2 separate regions of the Homo sapiens genome follow, and region 2 is linked to region 1. A link means that fine-mapping ties the variant in region 1 to the expression of a gene that starts in the linked region. Tissue or cell type: whole blood. Region 1 holds a variant in brackets; the other region holds the start of a gene. All regions are shown on one strand. Distances are between the middles of the regions.

The links. PIP is the estimated chance that this variant, and not a neighbour inherited with it, causes the effect.
Region 2: CCNDBP1 starts here. The variant in region 1 is fine-mapped to the expression of CCNDBP1 in whole blood (INTERVAL, PIP above 0.99).

What each region holds. Positions count from the first base shown.
Region 1 is chr15:42,588,549-42,596,652 of GRCh38, forward strand. All of the region lies in intron 3 of STARD9 (StAR related lipid transfer domain containing 9), which reads left to right. Among named protein-coding and RNA genes, the nearest start is that of STARD9, 17 kb to the left of the region's middle. The variant G/GTGATC (reference allele first, on the strand shown) is at 3,525.
Region 2 is chr15:43,182,087-43,190,190 of GRCh38, forward strand. It overlaps CCNDBP1 (cyclin D1 binding protein 1), which reads left to right and starts at 3,317. Exons shown (of 11, transcript NM_012142.5): 1 at 3,317-3,521; 2 at 3,734-3,793; 3 at 4,068-4,147; 4 at 7,113-7,194; 5 at 7,969-8,065. The coding sequence starts at 3,413. It overlaps TMEM62 (transmembrane protein 62), which reads left to right. Exons shown (of 14, transcript NM_024956.4): 14 at 2,174-3,058. The coding sequence ends at 2,500. LOC124903478 (a long non-coding RNA gene) reads right to left here and starts at 3,801. Exons shown (of 2, transcript XR_007064604.1): 1 at 3,683-3,801. RefSeq lists silencers at 3,043-3,342, 3,563-3,652 and an enhancer at 3,823-3,922.

The DNA of each region.
Region 1 (8,104 bases):
ACAAGCTGGAGTGGAGCCAGAGGTCCCAGAGTGGTGGCAGGACTCATATCTACATGATACAATCAGAGGCCCTCATTGCTTTAACACAGAAATTGGAGCTCAGGTTTAACCCTAATCACTATGGCTCTGAGGCCACCACGGACGGGTAAGAAAGGTGGAATCTATACAATCTTAGGACTTGGGGTGGAAAAGAATTTGGATGTAACCCAGTTTATCCTCTTCACAGCGTTTTTTTTTTTTTTTTTTTTTTTTTTTTTTTTTTTTTTTGGAGTGGGGGGTGGGGGTGTGTGGACAGAGTCTTAGTCACCCAGGCTGGAGTACAGTGGCTCAATCTTGGCTCGCTGCAACCTCCGCCTCCTGGGTTCCAGCGATTCTTGTGCCTCAGCCTCCTGAGTAGCTGGGACTACAAGCGTGTGCCACCATGCTCAACTGATTTTTGTATTTTTAGTAGAGACAGGGTTTCGCCATGTTGGCTAGGCTGGTCTCGAACTCCTGACCTCAAGTAATCCACCTGCCTTGGCCTCCCAAAGTGCTGGGATTACAGGTGTGAGCCACCACATCCAGCTCTCCACAGCATTAGTGATCAAATTTTGAGAGGAGGGGTCAGTCTATTGAAGTATAATTTAGATATAGTGAAAGATTTACCTTTTTTTCTTTTTTAACAATTATTTATTATTATTTTTAATAGAGATAGGGTCTTGCTGTATTGTCTAGGCTGGTCTTGAGCTCCTGGGCTCAAGTGATCCTCCCGCCTTGGCTTCCCAAAGTGTTGGGATTATAGGCATGAGTCACCACGCTTGGCCAAATTCACCTTTTTAATGTACAGTAACACATTCAGGTGTGTAACTGACACTACAATCAATATACAAAATAGTCTATCATCCCAAAAATTGCTTCATGCTCTTTTATAGTCTATTTCCCCAGGCCCTCACAATTACTGATCTGTTTTCTGTCCCTACAGTTTTATCAGTTCCAGAACGTCATAAAAATGGAATCAAACAGTATGTAGTTGTTTGAATCTGGCTTCTTTCACTTTGCGTGATGTATTTGAGATTCATCTTTTTTTTTTTTTTTTTAAATGGAGTTTCGCTCTTGTTGCCTAGGCTGGAGCGCAGTGGTGCGATCATGGCTCACTGCAACCTCCACCTTCTGGTTTCAAGTGATTCTCTGGCCTCAGCCTCCTGAGTAGCTGGGATTACAGGCGCCTGCCACCATGCCCAGCTAATTTTTTTATTTTTAGTAGAGACGGGGTTTCACTATGTTGGCCAGCCTGGTCTCAAACTCCTGACCTTGTGATCCACCTGCCTTGGCCTCCCAAAGTGCTGGGATTACAGGCGTGAGCCACCACACCTGGCCAAGATTCATCTTTACTGTTGTGTGTGTCACATCTTCTAACCTTGATTCTTTTTTTTTTTTTTTTTTTTTTTGTTGAGACCGGGTCTCGCTCTGTCACTCAGGCTGGAGTAGGGTGGCGCAGTCACAGCTCACTGCAGCCTCAACCTCCTGAACTTAAGTGATCCTCCCACCTCAGCCTCCTGAGTAGCTGGGACTACAGATACGTGTGCCACCATGCTCGGCTAAGTTTTGTAGTTTTTGTAGAAATGTGGTCTCACTGTGTTGCTCAGGCTGGTCTCAAACTCCTGGGCTCAAACGATCTGCCTGCCTTGGCCTCTCAAAGTGCTGGGATTACAGGTGTGAGCCACCACACCTGACCTTGATTCATATTTATTTAAATTATCTGCTCTCCCAGAAGGAATCTCATGACTTTGGAAGCATGGATTCTAACTATAAAGGATACAGTGTGTCTTTCATCCCTAGGTTTCTTCTTATTACAAAGGAAGGACTGCTCAGAAATATGGCATTGATTTCAGATATCAAAATATCTGAGGGAACTATCTAAATTTCCCTTAGTGGATATGGAGGGAGTATCTAAATATCTGACTTTAGGGGGATTTAGAGCAGCATCTTAAGAAGCCATTCAGAGGTAGATGTTGACAAGAATGTCACCTGATCAGTGTTGGTGCTTGTGTTAGTCTATTTTGTGTTATAAAGGAATACCTGAGGCTTAGTAATTTATAAAGAAAAGAGGTTTATTTGGCTCACAATTCTGCAGGCTTTATAGAAAGTATTGTGCCAGTATCTGCTGTTGCTGAGGGTTCAGAGAGCATCCAGTTGTAACAGAAGGGGAAGGAGACAGTCTTGTCACAGCGAGAGAGAGAGAGCGAGAGATGGGAGGGAGGCCACTCTCTTAAACAGTCAGCTCCAGTGTGAACTAATAGAGCAAGAACGCACTCATTACTGTGGGGAGGGGACCAGGCCATTCATGAGGGATCTGTCCCCATGACCCAAACACTTCTCAGCAGGCCCCAGCTCCAACATTGGGGGTCACATTTCAACATGAGATTTGGAGGGGACAGATGCACAAACTGTGTCAGTGCTGCCTTGTCATAGCCTCTTAGTATGTTAGAGTTTGAAGAGAACTTGTTAGTCATCTAGGCCAGAGTTTGTTGACCTCAGCGCTGTTGACATTTTGACCATATAATTCTTTGTTGTGGGGGTCTGTACTGTGCATTGTAGAATGTTTAGCAGCATTCCTGGCCTCTACCCACTTGATGCCAGTAGCAATCCCCCAACTGTGACAATAAAAAACATGTCCAGGCTGAGCACAGTGGCTCACGCCTGTAATCCTAGCACTTTGGGAGGCCAAGGCGGGTGGATCACCTGAGGTCAGGAGTTCAAGACCAGCCTGGCCAACGTGGCGAAACCCTGTCTCTACTAAAGATACAGAAAATAGCCAGGCATGGTGGTGCATGCCTGTAATCCGAGCTACTCGGGAGGCTGAAGCAGGAGAATTGCTTTAACCCGGGAAGCGGTGGTTGCAGTAAGCCGAGATCGCACCACTGCACTCCAGCCAGGGCAACAGAGCAAGAGTCCATCTTAAAAAAAAAAAAAAAATGTCTGGACATTAGCCACTAATCTAGGCCAACCCTCATATGTTACAGATCTGGCCATGTAATTTATGGCATTATACAGGTGGTTAGTGCTCAAGCTGGAACAGACCCAGGCTTCCTTATGGTGGTCTTTTTATTGCATTGTATCATTCTCTGTCTTTTTATATTTACAGCCTCAAAAGATAGGTTCAAAGTTAAAATTCCTTAGTGCTTTGGCACTCTTCCTGGTCCTTAGTGGTGAAATGCCTGAGTAAATAGATCAGTTGTCACCAACTAGGGACTACTAGAGGACAAGTCAGCTACTGCAAGTTCTACTGAGAAGCAGCTTTATTTGTTAAATGCCTATTGATAGCCAGATACAATTGTAAATGTTTATCACTTCATTCACGTTCTATTAGATCTATATTATTTACTCCATTTTGTAGATAAGGAAACTGAGGCATAGAACGTTTATAGGACTTGCCAGTAAGTGGTGGAGCAAGAATTCAAATTCAAGACTGTTTAACTCTAAATTTTATGTCATTTCCACTAAACCTCACTGACTCTCAAAAAGAAATACCATTTAGCCTACTA[G/GTGATC]TGATCTGATCATCTCTTTATGTATATTTGATATAATTTCTTAAATACCCTAAAAGGTAGAGGATTTTATCCCCCTTTTATAGTGGAGGAAATTTAGGCTTAGAGAAGTTATATGATCTGCCAAAGTTACACAGTAAGATGTGAGTTCTAGATTTGAACACAGGATCATCTGACTGCAAAGTTCATATTCAACACTATGCTGCAGTACAAAAGGAAAATGAAGGATATGGGAAAAGGAAGCGATGGAAAACTGGAGAAGGGGAGAGAAAAGACTATAGTGAATGGGATGTGGTTGGAGATCTCTATAGTACCTGTCTTGTCCATTACTCCTTGACCCTGGTGTCAGCTTCCTGTTTTTTTTCTTTTTCTTTTTTCTTTTTTTTATTTTTTGAGACAGAGTCTCACTCTGTCACCCAGGCTGGAGTGCAGTGGTGCGATCTTAGCTCACTGCAATCTCCGCCTTCCGGTTTCTAGCAATTCTCCTGCCTCCGCCTCCCGAGTAGCTGGGATTACAGGTGTGTGCCACCACACCCGGCTAATTTTTGTATTTGTAGTAGAGACGGGTTTCTCCATGTTGGCCAGGCTCGTCTCGAACTCCGGATCTCAAGTGATCTGCCCACCTCAGCCTCCCAAAGTGCTGGGATTACAGGCGTGAGCCACCACACCCAGCCAGCTTTCCATTCTTAAGGCAAGTCATTATTGGTCTAAATGCTGTTTTCAGTATTTGTTAATATTTGGACTTGCAGCAGAAGCTTTTCTTCAAAATTGGCCTGTATTTTTTCTGGCTTGAATCTGTATTAAAGTCAATTTGCTTCTCTGAAATTAAACCTGGACTTGAATTCAGGCAGTCAGTTATTGGCTAGCTTACTTTGGGCAAGTTGCTTATCCTCTTTGCTTTCTAGTTTCTTCAGCTCTAAAATAGAGATCATATATGCCTCAAAGAGTTATTGTGAGGAGGAAATGAAATAATTAAAGTGCCCAGCCCAGTACTTGGCACCTCGGCGTCAAATGAGTTTATGAGTGCTGTGCCTTGGGTCCCTGCCGTGATTACCATTATCATACGTAGTACAAGAGAAGCAAGGCTCATGATATTTTTCTGAGTTGAACTAGATTTGGAAACCTCTTTTCTGAATCTGGTTATGATCCCTTCTGGGACCATCCTGCTCCATTTGGAAAACTAACTTCCCTCCCTTCCTCCTGGTGAGGAACATCTGTTGGCGCAGGAATCCTCTGCTCCGGCGTATTGTGTTTGGGTGACTGTGTGTTTGTAAAACTTTCCATGAGGAGTATTAGCTCAGCTTTACCCACCAGGGCCTGAAAGTGGCTGTTTAAAACAAATGCAGACTGAGTCAACAAAAATCATGTCTATGAACAAAAAGCTAACCGCTCTTCATGGAAAGAATTGCTCCTATTCTTCTGGAAATCTTTATTTTAAAATGGTCTGTTATTTAGCTAAAACACTTGTAGCATTTCCAGACCAAAAAAAAAATCATGTTGAGTGAGCAGGAGATTTTTGTCTGAATTCAAAACAACCACTGTCTCCAAAATTGAAAGTATTTTAGTAGTAATATGGTTGTGCTTCTTTTTTTTTTTTTTTTTTTTTTTTTTTGAGACAGAGTCTCACTCTGTTGCCCAGGCTGGAGTGCAGTGGTACAATCTCGGCTCACTGCAAGCTCTGCCTCCCAGGTCCACGCCATTCTCCTGTCTCAGCCTCCTGAGTAGCTGGGACTACAGGCGCCCGCCACCACGCCCGGCTAACTTTTTTTTTTGTATTTTTAGTAGAGACGGGGTTTCTCCGTGTTAGCCAGAATGGTCTTGATCTCCTGACCTCATGATCCGCCCGCCTCGGCCTCCCAAAGTTCTGGGATTACAGGCGTGAGCCACCGCGTGGTTGTGCTTCTTGTTGTTTTAATATTTATTTGGTCTCCACAATATACTGAACATCAAACAACACACAGAATACATCATTACTTATGTCAAGGAGCCCTGAGAGAGAGTGAGCAAGTGAGAGTGAGAGAGACAGACAGACGGAGAAAAGAGAGTGTGCTATAGATTCTTTGGTGAATATCTTTTCCAATTCTGGACTTCAGTGTGAGGATGTCAGGAACCTGGAGAGGCTTCAGAGGGAAACCACACATACTCCCCCAAATGATTACAGAGCTGGACTGCAGGAACCAAGAGGAGCCACTATTAGTGTAGTATACCTCATGGGCATTCCACATGCGATTATTCAGTAAAGGAATGTTGATCCTGCGATGGGAAGGCAGAGATGATAATGCTCCATAAGTACTGAACATGAGGAGTTTTTTTCTGGAACATGAGAACCAGCTGGTCTTTGTTTTCATTAGGATAAAAGAGATTTCAGTTAAATTGCAGAAAATTGTACGTAATTAGGACACGAAGAGTAACTTGTACAGAATTTTTGAATCCTGATACATAGTAGCTAAATAGCTTGACTTTAGAATTCCAGAATATTAATACTGGAAGAAATGTTAAGAGACCATTCAAGATACTTACTTTTTCAGATTGAAGGTCTAGAGAGACAAAATAACAGTTAGAAGTTTTTTTTGTTTGTTTGTTTTCTTTTTGGCCAGTCCAGAATTGTTCTTGATGTGGCTGGGAAATCCTGTTGTTTATTCTAATGGTAGGGGCCATGGACTGCAACACAATGGTCCTAGCATAACAGGTAATGTGCCACTAGCAGAATCTCAAGGAAAGATCTTGTTCTTTAGATCTAACCTGTCCCTGGCTCTGTAGTCAACTGGGATGAGGAAATTGCCCTATTGCCATCTAGTAGTATGGGGAAGTATTCCATACCTGTTGTTATGCGTTCTCTAATGTGACCAGGTGTGATTAGATACTGCTGCCATAAAAGCAGCATTTCTGTTTGGGAAACCCCAACCCATTACAAAATGATAACAAGTGATCTGTTATCTGCTGCCTCAGAAAGTACGCAGGATGAGCTGGAGAGATGGAGTGTGACCTTCCCTTCTTTTATGCCTTACTTTTCTTGTATCTGCTGAACTTGGAGTGTGAATGAAGGTTTTGGGGAAGGTGGAAGAATGACTGAAACTGAGGAGGGACCTTTGAGGGGCTAGAGGAGAGGGAAACATGAGGAACAAACTAAGGTGAGGAGGAATTTGAGAGCTCACAGAGGGGTGGGCACTGTTAGGATTGTGTCACTTTTTTACAGCAGGTATCTCCATTTTAGGGATAGGAACAGGCTCAGATTTGTTGCATTATTGCTTAAGGTCATACAACCAAGTGATGGACGCAGCAATCAAACCTTGACTATGTGACTCCATGGTCCAAGCTCTCGCACACTATACCACATACAACTCTATTCCTGTATTTCCAGTGCTGCACATCTTCCATTATCAATCAATGGCTATTAGATTAATTATTCAATTAAAGGTTCAATGTATGACTGACAAGATAGGACTCTGCCTTCTTGAATTTTGCTGCCTGTTTTGGGAAGGCCTCATAATTTGCCTAAGTTAAAGAACCACAGATGCCAATCAGTTTCTTTGTGCATCCCCTTTTTCTGATGCATGTATGTGCTAGGGGAGCTGGGGAGTATGTGGATTCAAAGCAGCATTTTCTCATGAATATTTGCAGAGCTTTGTACATTCCATCACTAGTGCTGGTTTTTTTCCAACCAAGATGGAGACAGAAGTCGAAGGGAGAGAAGTTTATAAGAAAAAGCCTTTTTGTGCAGTAATCAGATGGGGCTCTGCAGAGCTGAGTGGAAGATGGGAGGGGTTACCATGAGTGTTTCAGTATGTCCCTCTGCCAGCAGCACAGCTGTTTGGTTCCATAAGCATGTCTGTGAGCTGGATTTTAATCTAACTTGTTTTTTCCGTCTTTAGAAACTTGACTGTGAATCTTTAAAGAGTAATTTTCAGACTCGTAGAAACATCTGAAAGACAGAGATTCTTGACAATGTTTGCTGCTCGTGGCACATGACTATGCAAAAATGAACAGTGGAAACTAGAGAAATCTTTTAAAATGCCAAAGCTTATGTGGATTTTTCCCCCTGTAAGACAAGGGTAATGGAAATTCCTTGTGGTAGCTAGAGCCCTTGAGATCCAGGCTGGAGAGAGAGGTTATCTGTAGGGGAGACATGCCCAAAGCTTGATAGTCATTTGCAGATGACCAAGGGCAGCCTAAGCATAAATGGAGAGTTCCTAAGACAGTTGTCCTTGATGTTACCCCATTTTTCTCTTGCTTGGATCTGCAATGCTGAAAATTCCTTATACTCACCCTTTGCACCTTAAACTTGGGTTTGTCCTGGGTTTAAAGCGATTGTCAATTAATTGCTTGAGGAAGAGAAGTATGATGATGGTGATGATTACTTTGAGAGTCTTTGGACAAAATGATTTGCAAAATCTTCTAAACGAGAGGATATAAAATGAACAGCAGCCCTTTGAGCAAAAGATCTGTATGTCCACCACAGTAGACAGGCATGCACAGGCAGACTGCTAACAGGTGCTAAATTTTCTTCCCACATACTTGCACAGTAAGCCTGTGTCCAAGTACCCTCTTAACCCCATTTCTGTAGTCCTCTGTTTGGGGGAGCC
Region 2 (8,104 bases), 590 kb after region 1:
GAAACAAACTGATGTATTAGGTTTACATTTGATTCCTTTAAAATAAACACACAAAGAACCTTGATCCATAGAAAAACTACATAAACAGATTTGAAAAGTATTTATCTAACAGTTTCTTTATTTTACTCACCTAATGGAGTTAGTGGACCAAAATTTGAAGTTTTGGAAGAGATCCAAAAACATTCAAAATAAGTTCATGGCCTTCTAACAGGGCAGTAGAACATGATCCAACAGGATTAGAGACAGCCAAGTAGGAAAGACTTCTGCCTAGCAAACACTGACCCAAGTCCAGAATATTCTCTGCATAGCAGCATTATATACATGAGTAGGTCCTGGGTTCATTTCAGTTTTCTTTTCTTTTCTTTTCTTTTTTTTTTTTTTTTTGAGATGGAGTCTCGATCTTGTCGTCCAGGCTGGAGTGCAATGGCATCGTCTCGGCTCACTGCAACCTCTGCCTCCCTAATTCAAGTGATTCTCCTGCCTCAGCCTCCCATGTAGCTGGGGTTACAGGTGCCTGCCACCATGCCCGGCTAATTTTTGTATTTTTAGTAGAGACAGGGTTTCACTGTGTTGGCCAGGATGGTCTCGAACTCCTGACCTCAGGTGATCCGCCCGTCTCGGCCTCCCAAAGTGCTGGGATTACAGGCGTGAGCCACTGCACCCAGCCTCATTGCAGTTTTCTATTATGTTGATGGAGGCTGTCTCTAAGGAGCTCTCTCATACCAAATGAATCCTGAGCCTTACCAAAAGGCAGGGTTTTTTCCTTTGTAAATGTTTACATTCATATTCTAATAAATAGTACACTAATAATGGATTTTATGTATCATCCAGACCCATGAATCCCAAATCTATATCTCTGATCTAGACCTCTTCTCTGCACTTCAAGTGCCTCTATATCCAATGGCCACAGATGTCTAACAGGCATCTCAACTTCATGTGATGTCTCTCTGATAGGAACATTATTTCCACCCCAAACCTGTTCCTCTCTGTTTTTCCAGTTTTAATAAATGACTCCACCATTCACCTGATTTCTCCAAGATGTATCCTCAATTATTCCCTTTCCTTCATACCCTGTATCTATTTCACCAGCAAGCTCTACCTTATTTGATCTGCTTCCAATGCATATCTTGAATCCATCCACTTCTCTCCATTTCTGTTTTCCTAATCTAAGTTGTAATTATTTCTTGCCTGGGTCTTCTCCCTGATATTCTTGCCTCCTTACTCTCAGCTTAATACAGAGCATCCAGTGTGCTCTTTTAAAAACTTTACAATCAGCTCACTTACTTTTCAGCTTGAAATGCTTTGAAGCAGAGCAGTGATCTGGGTCCTGCCGACTGCCCCAATTTCCACCTGGCTCATGCTCTGCATGCACTTCCTTAAAGAGGCCAAGACCTCTCCCACCTCTGGGCTTTTCATTTGTTCCTTCTGCCTAGAATGCACTTCCCTCCGCTGATTCATTCTTGTCCTTCTGGCCTCTGAGAGCCTTTCTCCCAGTTACCTTCTCATGACCCAGTTCTTTCCTTCATTGAACTAATCACGATCTGTAATTATATTTTTTGGTTTTTTTTTTTGTCTGTCTTCTCCCTGTTAGAATGTAAGCTCTATGACGGACCTTTTCTAACTTGTTTGCCATTGTGTCCCCAACTTGGAGCCTAGCTCATGCCTGCTACATAATGGGTGCTCAATAAATATTTGTTAAATGAATGAATCATACAGCAGCTCAACTTGGATTATAATTTAGATACTCTAATTTATATTCCAGTACTTATCATGCTACCTCAAACAAAAATGGAGGTAAGAAAAAAAATACTGATAGCCAAGTCCTCCCCTCACTCCACCAAAAAAGAGGGGTTGTTGTATGTGTGTGTATACATTTACTCAGTTCAATTCCAGCTTAACACCATTGGGTATTAACTGTGTATATGATACTGTACTACAAGTTGGGACTTCAGCATAAATTAAATGATACCTGCCTCTAAGATGAATAAAAGGACATGGGCAAATACACAACTAGCCACAAGTCAGCTGTTGTGTTATAAGCAACTGTGCTTGAAGTAAATTAGCTAACGCCAAGACAGATAGCAGCATAGTCTTAGGATCCACTAATAATGCATTATTAAGACCAAACTCTTCCAAGGACTTGGGAGTAAGCTATGGTTCTGTTCTTTTCCAGCTGGCGTTTTTTAACATCCCCTTGATGGCTTACATGTGTTGGAGCTTGCTGCAGCGGTGCTTTGGTCACAACTTCAGGTCTCATCTCCATCAAAGAAAATACTTGAAAATTATGCCTGTTCACCTACTTATGCTACTGCTGTACATCTGGCAGGTTTATTCCTGCTACTTTCTTTATGCAACATACGGCACCCTAGCTTTTTTATTCTCCCCTTTGCGGACCTGGTTGACACTGCTGACACCTGTTCTCATTCGTTATGTGTGGACACTGAACTCCACCAAGTTTGGAATCTTCATGGTGCAGTTAAAAAGCCACCTGAGCTCCTGAAGGCCATGTCTCACCACTGGCAGCTGGGCAGAAGCCCAGCCTCTGTGTCTGTAGCCCAGGCCTCTACCCCAGTAGCAGGTGGAGGGCCAGGATTGGTGGGTGAGCTTTAGGGAGCAGCTGCTCGTTTGGAGTCCTGGACGTTGGAGGGATTACCCACTACTGATACCTGCAGAATGGACTGCAGAAAAGTCTCAAAAATAATGCCTTTATTCCTTCCCTCCCTAAGGAGGCAAAGAGTTGATTTACCTTTGTGAAGAGAAAACCCTTATCTAGGACATCCACAGGGTAGAGGTTGGGTGTGTGTACGGGAGTGTCTGAGGCCCAGTGTGTTTTTTAGGGTTACCCCATGTAAAGCACTTACCGCTGTGCTTGGAATTCAGCAGCTGTCAAAGGTGCAATTTCAGGGGCAGGGAACCTTTGAGGATCTGGGCCCGACCCTCACTACCCCTGAGATATTAGTTCCCAGGCCTGTTTTCCCACAGGATTGTGGGCTCTCTGCTTCCTTAGTCGGAAGTGTTTTCAACTAATCAAATAAATGAATGAATGATGAATAAGAAAGACGGTGAGCCTGAGGCTTGCTTGTGTAGCCTGGCCTAAGGGGCAAGAGAAGGCGTGGCCTGTCCTGGCCTCTGAGAGTGGGATGGTTGGTGCTGTACCTCAGGGGACAGGGCGGGGCGGGAGGAGGCGGGGCCAGGCCTGGTCTCTGATAACGGGATGGGTGGTGCTGGACCTCGGGCGGGGCCGGGCCTCGTGGCGGGAGGAGGCAGGGCAGGGCCTCTGGGACGGGGCTGGACGGCTTGTTGACGGAAACGAGCCCTTGACGCTGTGGCCCGGAAGTGGAGCGGCTGTCGCAGTGCGGCTCCGGCAGTGGCAGCGGAGGCCTGTGTTTGCGGCCTTCGGCAAGCGACTGAGATGGCGAGCGCAACTGCACCTGCAGCCGCAGTCCCCACCCTGGCTTCGCCTTTGGAGCAGCTCCGGCACTTGGCGGAGGAGCTGCGGTTGCTCCTGCCTCGAGTGCGGGGTGAGCTGACGGAGTTAGAACGGGCGACGGCAGGGGCGGGCTCGGGGTCGGGGAGAGGCCGGGCTCGGGGTCGGGGAGAGGCCGGGCTCGGGGTCGCGGAGAGGGCGGGCTGGGGCGGCGGCGGGGAGCCGGGCTTGGGCGAGGGAGGTGGCTCCGCTTACCTCAGCTTTTCCATTCGCCACCGTTCGGCCCCCACACGCCACACCCACAAGTCGGCGAAGCCCAGGAGACCACCGAGGAGTTTAATCGAGAGATGTTCTGGAGAAGACTCAGTGAGTGCGCCTCCTTCCGGGCTCCCCTTGCCTCAGTTCCTCCAGCGTCCCGACCCCTTTTCCTCCCGCTGTCCCCCACGGAGGGGACTGCTCTCCCCCGCTGCATCCTTTCTGTGAGGTACCTTACCCACCTCAGCACCTGAGAGGGTGAAATAGAATTCTAACCTCGACATTCGGGAAGTGTTTTTGAGAAGTCTCGGTCGGTAAGGGAAGTCTTCCAAGTCCGTGCAGCACTAACGTATTGGCACCTGCCTCCTCTTCGGCCACCCCCCAGATGAGGCAGCTGTGACTGTGTCAAGGGAAGCCACGACTCTGACCATAGTCTTCTCTCAGCTTCCACTGCCGTCTCCACAGGTGGGCTTCACTTTCGTGGAATCCTTGGGCTGCCGAGTTACACCTTAGGAATCCTCTAATTTTCTTTCCACCTTTTGCACGCACGCCAGGAGATTTCTTTTCTTCATCTGTCCAGTGAGGTTACCGTTTTTACTTCACAGGATTGTTGTGAAGACCGAATTGCCAAGTGCAGTTCCTGGCGCGGAGTAGGCAGGTCTTATAAATATTGGTTCAGTCTGAAGTTTATCCTGGTTGTTTCCCTTCTGATAATTTTTTAAGCACTTTTTATTTGCTGGGTGTTTTCACATACTTGATGGCCATCTGACAGATGAGCAAGGAGGCTCAGAAGCTCAGCTTAAGATTTAAAAAAAAGCAGGGGGGCTAGAATTTAAATCAAGGTCTATCTGATGTCTAAGCTACCTATTCTGTTATACTGCATAATACCCTTTTTATATTATTTTTTATATTTAATCAGTAACATATGTAGATAGTACAAAATTCAACAGATATCAAAGTGTGTTAAGTTTACCTTTCCACCCACTTTCTCATTTTTGTCTCCCCCAGTTCCTTTTGCATTATTCCACGTATATTCTGTGCATATATACATTCATATACATTTATCTGTATGTGTCAGCTTCTTTTTACACAAATGATACATAAACACTGTTCTGGACCTTCCAACTTAGAATTACTGCAAACAGTGTCGTGATGAATTACCTAATTCTGTGTATGTGTGTATATTGGTAGAAAAAATTCCCGGAAGTAGAATTGCTAGAACAAAGATTTATGCATTTTAAATATTCCTTTATTATAAAACTAATGAAAGTAAACATGTTGGCTATGACCACGTATGCTCTATGCTCAGTTTTTCTAGAGTTGTGTATGCTTAATATAGGAGTAAGATTCTTTTAAAATGGCATATTCATTGCCTTATTTGATTTTCATAGTCAATTGTTTTAATTTTTCAGTCTACATATATAGGTGTTTGGAAAGGATATAAATATCTTCTGCTGCATGTACCTACAGTGATAAACTCTCTCCTCCTACATACCTTTGAGATTTTTTTTTTTTTTTTGAGACAGAGTCTCTCTCTGTCACTCAGGCTGGAGTGCAGTGGCACAGTCTGGGCTCACTGCATCCTCTGCCTACCGGGTTCAAGCAGTTCTCCTGCCTCAGCCTCTCGAGTAGCTGGGATTACAGGCACCTGTCACCACGCCTGGCTAATTTTTGTATTTTTAGTTGAGACGGGGTTTCACCATGTTGGGCAGGCTAGTCTCGAACTCCTGACCTCAAGTGATCCGCCTGCCTTGGCCTCCCACAGTGTTGGGATTACAGGTGTGAGCCACCGTGCCTGGCCTACCTTTGAGATTTGTGATGAGGAAACAAGAGATGAATTGTATGAGAGCACTTCAAAAGATTCATGGAAAATACTTATTTCAAAAAGAGTAGTTAATATTACCTTATTTTTCTTATCTGCTAACCCCTTTCTTTCAAATGCACTTAGGACTTGCTGCTAAAACTCACTGCAAGTAAGATACCACAAGGAGGCAGCATAGAACTGATTTTCTATACATGCTCAGGACAGTAGTTTCACTCATAGATGAAAAGTTAGAATTTGGATTTATTTGAAATATATACAAATATTCAAGTATATACATATATTCAAATAAATACATATATGTATATATGTGTGTATATACACACATACATACACATGAATCATCATTGCCTTCTTGAGATCTCACCACTTTAGTCCTACTAAAAGATGGGTGGTTGTTGGTTTTTTTTTGTTGTTGTTGTTGTTTTTTAAATTCCAATCTGTATGGAATGATACTTTAATAAAATTATGTGCTCGGATGTTGAATAAATGTCAAATTGCCATAAAAGTTTCTAAACACTCTCAGTCACTGCTTATCTCATCCCTGACTGGTCACAAACAGTTTGTAGACTGGCTCCAACCTGGACCACATTTGTATAGTATTGACTTAGAATTTAACAGAAAATTGAGGACAAGGAAGATGAGAAAGCCAGTGACCACCTAGAAGGAAAATAGTTAACATGGAGCATTGTCGAGTCCATGCTAGTTACCTTTAGTTACATATTCTGATTCTGTTAAAAAAAGAGAGAGACCTGGTTAATGGTTTAATAACCATGGTCTGTCAGTTGGTCTGTCTGTCTCTCTCCCTCCCTCTCTTTTCTGTAAAGGGCCAGTTAGTAAATATTTTAGATTTTGTAACCAACTACCCAACTCTGCCCTTATAGAGCAAACACAACTACAGACATTAAAACCAGTGAGTATGGCTGTGTCCCAATACACTTCATTTCCAAAAACAGGCAGTGGGGCCTGACTTGGCCTGAGGACCACAGTTTGCCAGCTCCTGGTCTAAGATATCATGAATATCTTGGGATACAGAGTATCAGGAATAAGTTTTTTCCTGCTGTTTCTTAATGGTTTATTGAGTTGTCAGCCCAATATCTACTATATAGCTAACTCCTCCCTGGTATGTGATGAGTATAGTAGGCCTGCCTTCATACCAGGACTTCAGAAAATGTTTGATGATGCTGTAGAAATATCTGCCCTAGGCCGGGTGCAGTGGCTTACACCTGTAATCTCAGCACTTTGGGAGGCCAAGGGAGGTGGATCACCTGAGGTCAGGAGTTCGAGACCAGTGTGGCCAGTGTGGCAAAACCCCATCTCTACTAAAAATACAAAAAATTAGCTGGGTGTGGTGGCGGGTGCCTGTAATCCCAGCTACTTGGGAGGCTGAGGCAGGAGAACTGCTTGAACCTGGGAGGTGGAGGTTGCAGTGAGCCAAGATTGCGCCATTGCACTCCAGCCTGGGTGACAGAGTGAGACTCTGTCTCAAAAAAAAAAAAAAAAAAAAAAAAAAAGAAAAAGAAAGAAAAGAAAAAGAAAAGAAATATCTGCTCTATTCCACAGCAGAAGGGTTGACCACTTTGATCTAATCTGTTTCCTTTTTCATAGGAAACCCAGAAGTTCTGTGAACAAGTCCATGCTGCCATCAAGGCATTTATTGCAGTGTACTATTTGCTTCCAAAGGATCAGGGTAAGCCACATAAGTGTTGCATTTATCGTGTAGATCTTTGCTAATATTGTGGATTATGTCTTGTGACTTTTACCTTTACCCAACTTGAACATGTAACTTTCTCCCATAAAATACAGTGAAGGATAATTTTGTAATGTAAGTGACTTATATAAACAAGCCATTATTCTAAGATACAGATGCTTTGTTCCTATGACTTCCCATCTCCCCTGCCTTGCCTGACTCATAAGGCTTTTAATTCTCACAGCCTTCTCCCTCTTCAACCCGTTTTAACACCACAGATACTGGCTGGCTCTCAGCCCCATATGCAGGCTCAGGCCATCCTTACTTTCCTCCACCCATGTTATATCTCACCCTATTTCTGAACATCTGCATAGGTTAAATGGCCTCCAGCCCTGCCTGTAGAATCATGCATTGATTATAATCATGCCAAAATTATAACTGAATACATGTCATGGATCTTCAGGGTTACTCAAGTGGCTTAAACTTCAAGTGTTTCATCTACAGTTGTTAAGAGATCACGGTCCTTAATGAATGAATACATGGTGTCACGGAAAGATTTTGTTCCAAATCTCTTTTGAAGAAAACACTAAGGAATGGCAGGAGGGGCAAGAAAATGCCATGGGGATATAAGTAAGACCTGAGTTTTGTGTTAGCATGTAGGTTAAAGCATGTGGGTGTACATTACCTTATAGTTCTGTAATGCTTAGACTCAGGAAAGCAGATGGTGCTTCTGAAAAGAACACCAGGTTGCTTATTCTTTGGGTTTGGCCACAGGGATCACCCTGAGAAAGCTGGTACGGGGCGCCACCCTGGACATCGTGGATGGCATGGCTCAGCTCATGGAAGTACTTTCCGTCACTCCAACTCAGAGGTAGTGATGCCACAGTTTAGGTTACCAGTTATTGGGGTT